Regions from separate parts of the Homo sapiens genome. Here regions 2 and 3 are each reported to be linked to region 1. Evidence: microRNA targets listed by miRTarBase, many of them from high-throughput screens and not tested one by one. Region 1 holds a microRNA gene; each other region holds the end of a gene's coding sequence.
The links. The annotated mature microRNA hsa-miR-7106-5p reads UGGGAGGAGGGGAUCUUGGG and lies in region 1 at 1,274-1,293, shown strand. An mRNA with a match to its seed (bases 2 to 7 or 8) in the 3' UTR can be bound and repressed. Matches are read on the target gene's strand: a 7mer-m8 pairs with bases 2 to 8, a 7mer-A1 pairs with bases 2 to 7 and ends in A, and an 8mer does both.

Region 2: the mRNA of ZNF503 is a reported target of hsa-miR-7106-5p. Seed matches in the 3' UTR shown: 7mer-A1 at 1,021-1,027.
Region 3: miRTarBase lists TULP1 as a target of hsa-miR-7106-5p. Seed matches in the 3' UTR shown: 7mer-m8 at 462-468.

Annotation. Positions count from the first base shown.
Region 1 is chr12:113,157,111-113,160,445 of GRCh38, reverse strand. MIR7106 (microRNA 7106) reads left to right here and starts at 1,269; the gene lies at 1,269-1,333. CFAP73 (cilia and flagella associated protein 73) reads right to left here. Exons shown (of 8, transcript NM_001144872.3): 7 at 2,756-2,844; 8 at 1,170-1,745. The coding sequence ends at 2,767. DDX54 (DEAD-box helicase 54) reads left to right here. Exons shown (of 20, transcript NM_024072.4): 20 at 1,337-3,273. The coding sequence ends at 1,569.
Region 2 is chr10:75,395,991-75,399,325 of GRCh38, reverse strand. ZNF503 (zinc finger protein 503) reads left to right here. Exons shown (of 2, transcript NM_032772.6): 2 at 1-1,496. The coding sequence ends at 577. LOC124902461 reads right to left here. Exons shown (of 1, transcript XM_047426122.1): 1 at 1,069-3,335. The coding sequence starts at 3,170. The coding sequence ends at 2,205. Among named protein-coding and RNA genes, the nearest start is that of ZNF503-AS2, 3.9 kb to the left of the region's middle.
Region 3 is chr6:35,495,515-35,498,514 of GRCh38, reverse strand. It overlaps TULP1 (TUB like protein 1), which reads left to right. Exons shown (of 15, transcript NM_003322.6): 15 at 55-641. The coding sequence ends at 188. It overlaps TEAD3 (TEA domain transcription factor 3), which reads left to right and starts at 1,436. Exons shown (of 13, transcript NM_003214.4): 1 at 1,436-1,617. LOC124901309 (a long non-coding RNA gene) reads right to left here and starts at 382. Exons shown (of 2, transcript XR_007059561.1): 1 at 308-382. RefSeq lists enhancers at 1-529, 530-1,460, 2,407-3,000 and silencers at 929-1,258, 1,269-1,398, 1,579-1,628.

The DNA.
Region 1 (3,335 bases):
ATACCCATTTTACAGGCCAGGAAACAGGTGCCTTATGAGGGCTATGACTGAACCTGGGTCACCCAGCTGCCCAAGGCTCCCACCTGGAGTCTTCCCTGGGGAGAGGGGAGTTTGGGACCATGTCTTGGGTCTCTCTCAGATGGCCTTAGCCCCTGCTTGTGTCCCTCCACCTCCTGGGGCTGGTCACTGCCTCCCCTGGGTGTCTCTGTGAGCCTGCGTGCATTTGCCTGGGCCTGTTCTCTGTGGCTCCTCCCTCTCCAGCTCTCCCATCTGTGGGAGTGTCTCCTTGTCAGCATGGCTGGGTGGGGACCACCCACACCTCACTTCTCAGCCTGTTTTTACCTAGGTGAAACAGCAGCTTCTGCTGCGAGCATTGCCGTGCAGTGGGCGTGCAGGGGCTGGGGAGACGGGGGCGACCTGTGGGCTTTGGGAAAAAGCAGCTGTTCTTCCTTTGCTGTCCTCATTGGAGGTGATAGGTCCTGCGAGGCACCCTGGCTCCATTGGAGACAGCTGGGACCACCTTAATGGTCATCCCTCTAGGAGCCCTGGGGAGGCTGCTGTTATGAATGGGGAAGAGGAGGAGGAGGACACAGGGCTTAGTGGGAGCCAGGGAGGGTGGTGCTTGCCTCCCGGAGAACTAGAAGAATGGACTACCTGATGCCCACCTGTGGGGCTGGGGCAGGGTCGCTGACCTCTGCTGCTGCTGCTGCTTTGCTGTGTGATCTCAGATAAGTCCCTCTCCCTCTCTGGCCTTCTTTGATTCCTCTCCCACCTAAAGGAAGGTTCATCTACACTCTTTTTTCATCTAACAAGCCTAGAGCATGGTGTCCATGGAGACAGAGGCTGAGGTCTGTATCGGTTACTATGGGGGGCCTCAGAGCCTGGCGTGCCGTAGGTGTGCTGTGGAGACATACACTCCTTGGTTGGAGAATTTTTAATAGTAACAGTCATGCCCAAAAGGCTCCCACTATGGGACAGGCCTTGAAATTCTGACCACTTTACACCATGGAAATGCATTTACTCTTCACCCATGAGGGAGGTGCTGTGATTTATAATTCATAGATGGGGAAACTGAGGCACAGAGCCGTTAACTTCTTGCCCACGGTCCAAGAGGTCACAGCTGGGATTTGAACCCCAGCGGTTCTGGCCCCGTGTTATTGACCACTCCATGAGGCTGCCTAAAACTTTATTAGCCACCTACTGTGTACAGACACTGGGCCACAGCAATAAGCACAGAACAGGAGTAGGGGCAGGGGAGGAGTCTGCAAGCTTCTGGGAGGAGGGGATCTTGGGAGTGATCCCAACAGCTGAGCTCCCTGAATCCCTGTCCCAGCAGGTGCATCCCGGCCCCACGCCCCAGGCACCCCTGCAGGCCGAGTCCGCCCGGAACTCAAGACCAAGCAGCAGATCCTGAAGCAGCGGCGCCGGGCCCAGAAGCTGCACTTCCTGCAGCGTGGTGGCCTCAAGCAGCTCTCTGCCCGCAACCGCCGCCGCGTCCAGGAGCTGCAGCAGGGCGCCTTCGGCCGGGGTGCCCGCTCCAAGAAGGGCAAGATGCGGAAGAGGATGTGAGGACCAGGACCCAGCCCCGTGGCTCCTTGATTGGCCTTAGGGTGGGCATCAGCAGACGTTCCCGTGCACCACTGTGTGCCTGGCCCTGTGCTGGGCACTGGGGGCACTCCCTGCAGGAGCCATCATCTGTGAAAAGGAGCACTGTATGGCCACAGAAGGGCAGCAGCTGCGTCAGCCTAAGACAGAGACATTTGAACAGGGCCTTGAAGGGTGTGCAGGAGTTCGCCAGCAAAGCCAGGCAGGCCAAGACTTGAGTTGGCAACTCAGCTGCTGCTGCTTCCATGTGTTCTGGGTTCAGAGGTCATGGCTGCACCGGTCAGAGCCCTGAGTGCCTCAGGGTTTGGCAATGGAATTTTTAATGTAATAAATCTTTATTGAGCACTGCTGGTGGCCAGGAGTGCGGTCTACTTGGGGAACTGGAATGGAGAGACCCAGGTACTAAAATCCCAGCTAACGTGGCAGAGGAGTTGCGGGTCTCCTGAGGGTGAGTTCTGCTGCCTTGTCCATTTAGCGATGAGGAAAGTGAAGCTCAGAGCACAAACCAGGTGCCAGAGGCGGGAGTTGGTCCCCCTTCCTCCCACTGGACATGGTTGCAGCTGGGAGTGGGCTGGGGGAGGGGAACAGGATGCCCAGCCCAGGGGGCAAGGACACAGCTGCTCCCCTCTGGCTATGAAGAGGTTAACGCGGCCCCTCCACACCTGGAGGTCAGAACCTGGCCTGTCCTCTGTCTTCTTGCCACCCACCCCCTGTTTGAGGTTCTGAGAAGGTCAAGGGCAGCCCCAGCAGCTGGATTCTCAGGCTGGGCCCCTCACCTGGCAGAGTCCATAGTGGAGGGGGCCTTGGTGATCTCTCATCTAGCATGGACCCTGTTCTGAGACCTGACAAAGAGTTTTTTTTCATGCCCCAACCACCCTGGCAGGGAGGGCCTGGTCTGATCTCATTTTAGAGGCAGTTGCCCCACACATAGCCCCTTGACCTTCCCATCACCTCCTCATCAGGGCCTGCATTTATGGAGTGCTTGCTATGTGCCCCTCATGGCAGGCCCACAGCACTCTGAACAGGCACAGCCCTCCCATCTTCCCAATGAGGAAACGGATTCAGGAAGAGCCACTCAGTCCACACCCCATTGGAAATGTGGGCCCTCCTATCTCAGGGTCTCTCAGGGGTTCCCTCTCCCGCTGCTCACCTGTGTCAGGGCTAGGAGGCAGGGGCTGCAGGCTCAGCCTGACCCAGGCCGGCCAGCATGGCAGAGAGGTCCTGCATGAACAGCTTCACCTGGGGGGGCCCAGCACGAAGTCACATCCCAGCCCCAGAGTCACTGTCCAGCCCCCACCCCTCAACACGCGGGGGAGGCCGAAAGGTAGGGCGGGGACTGGAGATCCCCTCATTAAAAGAACAGTGATGATGGTGGTTCCCAGAGGTGGTGACTGAGATCCTAAACCGTTCTGGGTTTTGAAAGCCTCAGGCCAACCTTCCCAACTGCTGCGTGAGCAGACACCTTCACAGCTTCCTCGCTGCTGTCACCTGCACTATCCAATTAGTATTTTCATTTACATCAATCAGCTTTATTTTCTTGTAACTGGATCAGTCATATTCATTGGTTTGTGACCTACTCTTATCTCCGTGGGTGGCTCTCCTTTTGTTTTAATTAACTTCTTTATGAATATGAACTTAATAAATACCATGGATCCATTGTAAAAACTAGAACTTGAGGGTGAACTTACAACCATCTGTGGGCTCCCCCTCATATTCATCACCGTATCAAC
Region 2 (3,335 bases), not on the chromosome of region 1:
GGCTGCTGCGGCTGCGGCGCTGAAGTCCGGATACCCGCTGGTGTACCCCACGCACCCGCTGCACGGTGTGCACTCCTCGCTAACGGCCGCCGCGGCTGCTGGCGCCACACCGCCCTCCCTGGCCGGCCACCCCCTCTACCCCTACGGCTTTATGCTCCCTAACGACCCACTCCCCCACATCTGCAACTGGGTGTCGGCCAACGGGCCGTGCGACAAGCGCTTCGCCACGTCCGAAGAGCTGCTGAGCCACTTGCGGACCCATACGGCATTTCCCGGGACAGACAAACTGCTGTCGGGCTACCCCAGCTCGTCGTCTCTGGCCAGCGCTGCCGCGGCCGCCATGGCTTGCCACATGCACATCCCCACCTCGGGCGCACCGGGCAGCCCTGGGACGCTGGCGCTGCGCAGCCCCCACCACGCGCTGGGACTCAGCAGCCGCTACCACCCCTACTCCAAGAGCCCGCTTCCCACGCCTGGCGCCCCCGTGCCGGTGCCCGCCGCCACCGGACCGTACTACTCCCCCTACGCCCTCTACGGACAGAGACTGACCACCGCCTCGGCGCTGGGGTATCAGTGAGGGCGGCCGGGAGGGCGAGCGAGGGAGAGGAGGGAGAGGGGGAGGGGAGGAGTCCAGGGAGAGGCGGGATCACGGCCCAGGCTGCTGACACCCGCGCGTGGGGAGGACTCGGGCCACGAAAGGAAAGAAATGTATACCGTATCTATCTACCCGACAGCAGCGACCGAGACCCGGTGGGACACTCCCCTTCTCCCCACTTTCACCTCCCCACCCAAACTTTATAAAAGTTGAAAAAATATCATTTGACTTTTTATAGAAAAAAAAAGGAAAAAATAATTGAGAAAGTGTTCATCTGAGGACTGCATCGGTGGACACTGGTATTTATTTATGTTAGCTCCAAGCGGACCGGTGGTTCAAAAGTGCATTATTTAGTTTGAGCTCTGTAGGTAAAAAGGAGGTGGGAAAAATTTTAAAACTTGAGGGTAAAAATGTGGAAAACAAACCCTCCCATCCCTTGTAGATTATAAATAAAAGCAAAACCGCCACAGAACTAGAGGTCTTCTCTTTAATGTTACTTTAAAATTGCTATGATTGTATTGTACGTTATTTAATGTCTGATTGAAACACAAATTTACATGCATGTTTGTTACAAAAAAAATGAAAAAAAAAGTCACAATTTGTCAGCTCTGATTTCAAATTGCAATTATTTTTAAGGTGTATACCATCGAAGAGAATGGGTATTTTTTTGTATGTATTCTGGAAGAAAACAACAAAAAAAAAAAGAAAAAGAAAAAATTCTATTCCAAAACCTCATTTGCCTTATTTTGTTCTTTAAAAGGAACACTTAACTATTTTTAATTTTTAAGTCCACCCGCTGAGAAGGGGACAAGGTTTACGTCATGTACTAAAATAATAGACAATGTATCGCTTTAAAGATTAAAATTCCGTATATTTGATGTATTAAAGGGTTTTACTTCTTCTTCTTATCTTTTTTATTTTGGTTAAAGAGAGCATGGCAGTTTCGGCCGCAGTGGGTTCCGGGGCCTCACTGCTACTCCTTCTTCCCGGGACCGTGGCTGAATTTCCGATCGCTTTGTTGTGATTTTCTGGGAGGCAAAGGCGTCGGAAGGGGCTACCAGCCGCGAAGTTGGCCTTGGGGAACATATTTTTAGAGGATATTTCACCATTTGGAAAATAGTGTCCTCCGCTATCTATCATTTCGTTTTTATTTCAATTTTCTCTTGGCAGCTGGCTTGTTAAAAGTGAAAGGGGGTGTGGGGCGGGGGACAGGGTTTTTGTTAAATTTCCCTCCTGAGCTTTTTGGGCATTTGGGTTTCGTTTTGTGCAGAGTGGAGCAGGCCGGGACTCGCCGGCTGGGCCTGGGCCGGGGCCTCGGGGACGTGGGGCAGCGCGCTGGGGCAAGCCGAATAGACTGGGAGGCGGAGGGGCGCTGGGGGAACCTGTGTCCCGGGCCTGGGGGGAGTACGCAGGGACCCTCTGGTCCCTAGGGGAGAGTGCGTCCTCTTTTCTTCTTCTGGCTGCCCAGGGCCTTCTAAACGCTCCCCGCAACCCTCGCCCTCACCCCCACCCCCACCCGCCCGCTCCTTCCTCCCTCCAGAGTCGGGACCCGGGGCTGGCCGGCGCCACCGCTGCTTTTCCCCGTCCGGGTGGCTCTGCAGCCGGCGCTCTATTCCATTCCGCGCCGCAGGAGAGCCCGCCCGGCCAGGACCCGGAAAGCCCCTCCAAGTGCGGCCCCGCGAGCGTCCCGGCGCCCAGGTCCGGCCTTTCTGGGGCTACCAGGTGGGCACCTAGGGCTCCGCTCTGCAGAAGCGCGGCGGGAGTCTGGGTCCGGGCGCAGCTCCCTGTGGCGCGGGCCGCTGTCTTCTCCCCAGCTTGGGCCGCAGGACAGAGCTGCCCGAAGCGCCGAAGGAAGCACGCAGAAAAAAGTCTCAGTCCCTTTTGGGGGGAGGGGGGCCGAGACCCAGCGCCCCCTCCCAGACGCTCCAGGCCTGGGCGCTAGCCCAGGTCCTCCGGCTAGTTGGGAGCTCTGAGCCCAGAGCGCCCTTTCCAAGGATTCCGGGACCGTGGAGTCACAGCTCTGAGAGCGCACCCCAAACTCTCCGCTCCCTGGGGTCAGGCTCTTCCGGTTTCTCCGAGTCTCGGGATCCCCTCGGCGCTCAGGTACCCCTGTTGCCTCTGGGGACTCACGGCCGCGCGAAGTCAGCCTTTGGCCTCTCGCCTGCGTCCGACAGCCCGCGGCCCCTGCCGCCATTTGCACCGGGATTGGTGACTTTGAGATTTTCCACCCTCCTCCCAGCGCCAGCCTCACGGCTGCAGGGCCTTTACCCGGGTTGCACGCAAAGCCACCCCCAGCGACCTCCCGGACACTGCGGGAAGCGCGCGGGCCGCCTCCTGGAACTGACTTGGTGGGGACTCTGGCTCCGCCGCCGTCTCCACACCCCCGACCCTGATGTCCGGACGTCGCGAGACCCCAGGAAACGGAGCTGGCGCCGAGGAGGACCCCTGGCCCGCAGCGTCTTCGGACGCCGCGGCCCCGGTCCCACTCTGGTCCCGCCGAGAGAGGCTGAGCTGGGCCTGGTTCCTTGAGAATCCTGGCCGGCGGGCTTGTCGCCCCGGCCTCTTGGACAGACATCCCCCGCCCTGCAGGTGGGAGGGCGGGAGCGCGTGGCGGTGCTGCAGCCGGGGTCCCACGCTCCGGTGCCCGCAGCTCAGGACCTGAAAGCCAGGCGTCTACCACTCTCTCACCAGCAGCGGCCACGCGCTCCTGGCCACTGCGACCCACAGGCTGTGCCTCTTT
Region 3 (3,000 bases), not on the chromosome of region 1:
GGATGGGGGTCCAAGGAGGTCTCGGGCCGCCCCCACCCCGTCTTGTGTCCATAGCCGACTATATCGTGCTGCAGTTCGGCCGCGTGGCGGAGGACGCCTTCACCCTAGACTACCGGTACCCGCTGTGCGCCCTGCAGGCCTTCGCCATCGCCCTCTCCAGTTTCGACGGGAAGCTGGCCTGCGAGTGACCCCAGCAGCCCCTCAGCGCCCCCAGAGCCCGTCAGCGTGGGGGAAAGGATTCAGTGGAGGCTGGCAGGGTCCCTCCAGCAAAGCTCCCGCGGAAAACTGCTCCTGTGTCGGGGCTGACCTCTCACTGCCTCTCGGTGACCTCCGTCCTCTCCCCAGCCTGGCACAGGCCGAGGCAGGAGGAGCCCGGACGGCGGGTAGGACGGAGATGAAGAACATCTGGAGTTGGAGCCGCACATCTGGTCTCGGAGCTCGCCTGCGCCGCTGTGCCCCCCTCCTCCCCGCGCCCCAGTCACTTCCTGTCCGGGAGCAGTAGTCATTGTTGTTTTAACCTCCCCTCTCCCCGGGACCGCGCTAGGGCTCCGAGGAGCTGGGGCGGGCTAGGAGGAGGGGGTAGGTGATGGGGGACGAGGGCCAGGCACCCACATCCCCAATAAAGCCGCGTCCTTGGCCAAGCGGAGCGGTGGTTCCTCAGCGCGTGCGGAGAACGAGGCGGCAGGAGGCGTCCGAGGCGCGAGCTGGAAGTCTCAACCCCCGTCCCACTCCTGCCCAGGCCCCGGGCGCTCCCGCGTCCCCTCCCCGCGCCCGTCGCGGGTCCTACCGAAACTCGGCGGCCGCACAGCGTCGAGACGCCCCCCGTGGGGGCCCGGGGAGCCGGGGCGAAAGGGAGGGTCCCGGAGGTCGGGGAAGAGGGAGAAAGGGAGAAGAAATTCGAGAAACTAGCCACGCGGGGAGAACCAGACAAACCGGGTCCCGGCAGGGCGGGCGCAGCCGCCAGGGCGGAGCCGGGTCTGGGGCCCCGGGAGTGGGGGGCAGGCCCGCGAGCTGGAGGGTACGCTCCGCCTTGGCGGCTCGGGACTAGGGTGGAGGGGCCGGGAGCCCCGGGGCCCGTGCGCTCCGGCTCTGCCGGGCTCCTCGTGACGCGGCACCCACGGCCCCCGGCACCGACGGGAGCCCTGCCCGCGAGGCGAGGGCTCCGCCCTCGGCCCCGCCCCAGGCCGGAGCCCCAAATTCCGGCGGGTGCCCGGGAGCGGGGCGAGGCCCGGAGCGCAGGGGGAGGAAGGCAGCTCCGCACGGGCGGGCGAGGAGCGGGGCGCCCAGGCGCGCGCCAGCCGGGGTGGCCGGGTCGCGAGGCCGCGGGGTAGGCGGCCCGAGCGCGGCTGGACGGCCCCGCCCCTCCCGGCCAGCACCGCCCCCTGCGCGCCCCGCCCCCTCCTTCCCGCAGCCCCCACCCCCGCCCCGGCTCCTCAACACAAACTTTCCGTCCCGCTCGCTCCCTCCTCCGCGCTCGGCGCCTCCCGCTCCAGCCCGGCTCATTCCGCACATTCCGGCCAGCCCCCTCCCCACGACCCCCCTTCCCCGGCCCCCCTTGCGGCTCCCTCGGGCCCGGCGGAGCGGCCCGGCCGGAGCGCCCCCGCGAGCTCGGACCAGGTAAGCCGGGCGGACGCCGGGAGGAGGCCCCGCTCGGGAGAGGTGGTTTGGTTGGTCGGCTGGGCTGGCTGGGGGGGCGACACTCGAGGGGGACTGGGTCCCCGAGCTATTGTCCAGCCGGAGCTGGAGCCCCGGATCGGGGTGCCGGGAAGTTTAGAGGGAAGGGGGAAAATCTCTCCGGGAAGCCCCGCCCCCCGCCCTCCCCACCCCCCCGCGACGGGGACGAGTTGGTCCGGGAAGGTGGGGAAGCCGGGGAGACCGTGTCCCCTGTGCCGTCGCCTGTCCCGCCGTCCGTGCTTGGGGGGTCGGGGCGGGGATCCGGGGGCCGCACAGTGTGGAGGGCCTGCCTGCCACCCTGGAGCTCATATCCGGGGCGCCCAGTCCCGGGCCCCGCCGCCCTTTGGACTCCCGGCCCGCGCGCTCCCGGAGCCCGCCCGGCCTCAGCTCCACGCAGGCCTCGGGCCCGGCCTCCCAGCGCCCAGGCCGGTTTCTGCGCGCGGTGCCGCGGCTGCGCTGGGTTGTGGAGGGTGTCTGGGACCAAAGCCGCGCGCCCCGGCCGTGTGTCCCCTGAGAGGCAGGGAGGGGCTCACGTTCCCTTCAGTTCTGCCGCCTGCGTCGGGGTGCTGATTCAGAGTTCCAGCCCTGAGCGCTGTGAGCTTGGCTCGGAGGGGTCTGGATTTGGGGCCTTTTCTTCCCCACACTTGCTCAGGGCCCTTGTTTAGACTTGACAAGGTTTGAGGGTGGCTGGTCTCCCGCTTCCTACCCCGGTCCCCACCATTGTCTGTCATGCCCTTTATTCCTGCTAGGGGAGGGAGGGCTGGGAGCGCTGGTCTGGATCTGTTTTCCAGCCCAGCTGGGCCCTGGGGCAGTGTCATTGAGACCCCGCTCTGTCAACTTTCCTGGTGAGGGGCCCTGATCCAGGGCTGAGAGATTCTTTCAGTGCGAGGGGGAAGGAGGCCTTGGGGCGGACTTCTCAGGGGCTGTCTTCTTCTGTGTCTTCCCTCTTTCCAGGTAGGGGCAGAACCAGGTCAGGCCTGGACTTGTTGTCCGGAAGAACAGGGCATAGGGGTAGGGGCTGGACACAGCTCAGAGGGGCTGGTGCCCATAGCGGCTCTGCGTATCCAGTCTCTTGTGGCCTGGTTCTCTGTACACATGTTCCACCCCAGTGCTGGGGCCACCTGGGGCAAGGAGGGGAGGCTTTCCTCAAAAGTTGGAGATTTGGGGGAATTATGTCCTCTCCCTTCTAGACTCCTGTAGCCCCCCTCCCACCAAGACCCCTCTCGTAGGGGCACTCCCTAAAGGATGTGGTTCTGTGGTCTTCTGGGTCCCTGCTCACCCAGTGGGCAGAGTGCACAGATCTTCCAGGACAAGGCTGTCCAGTAA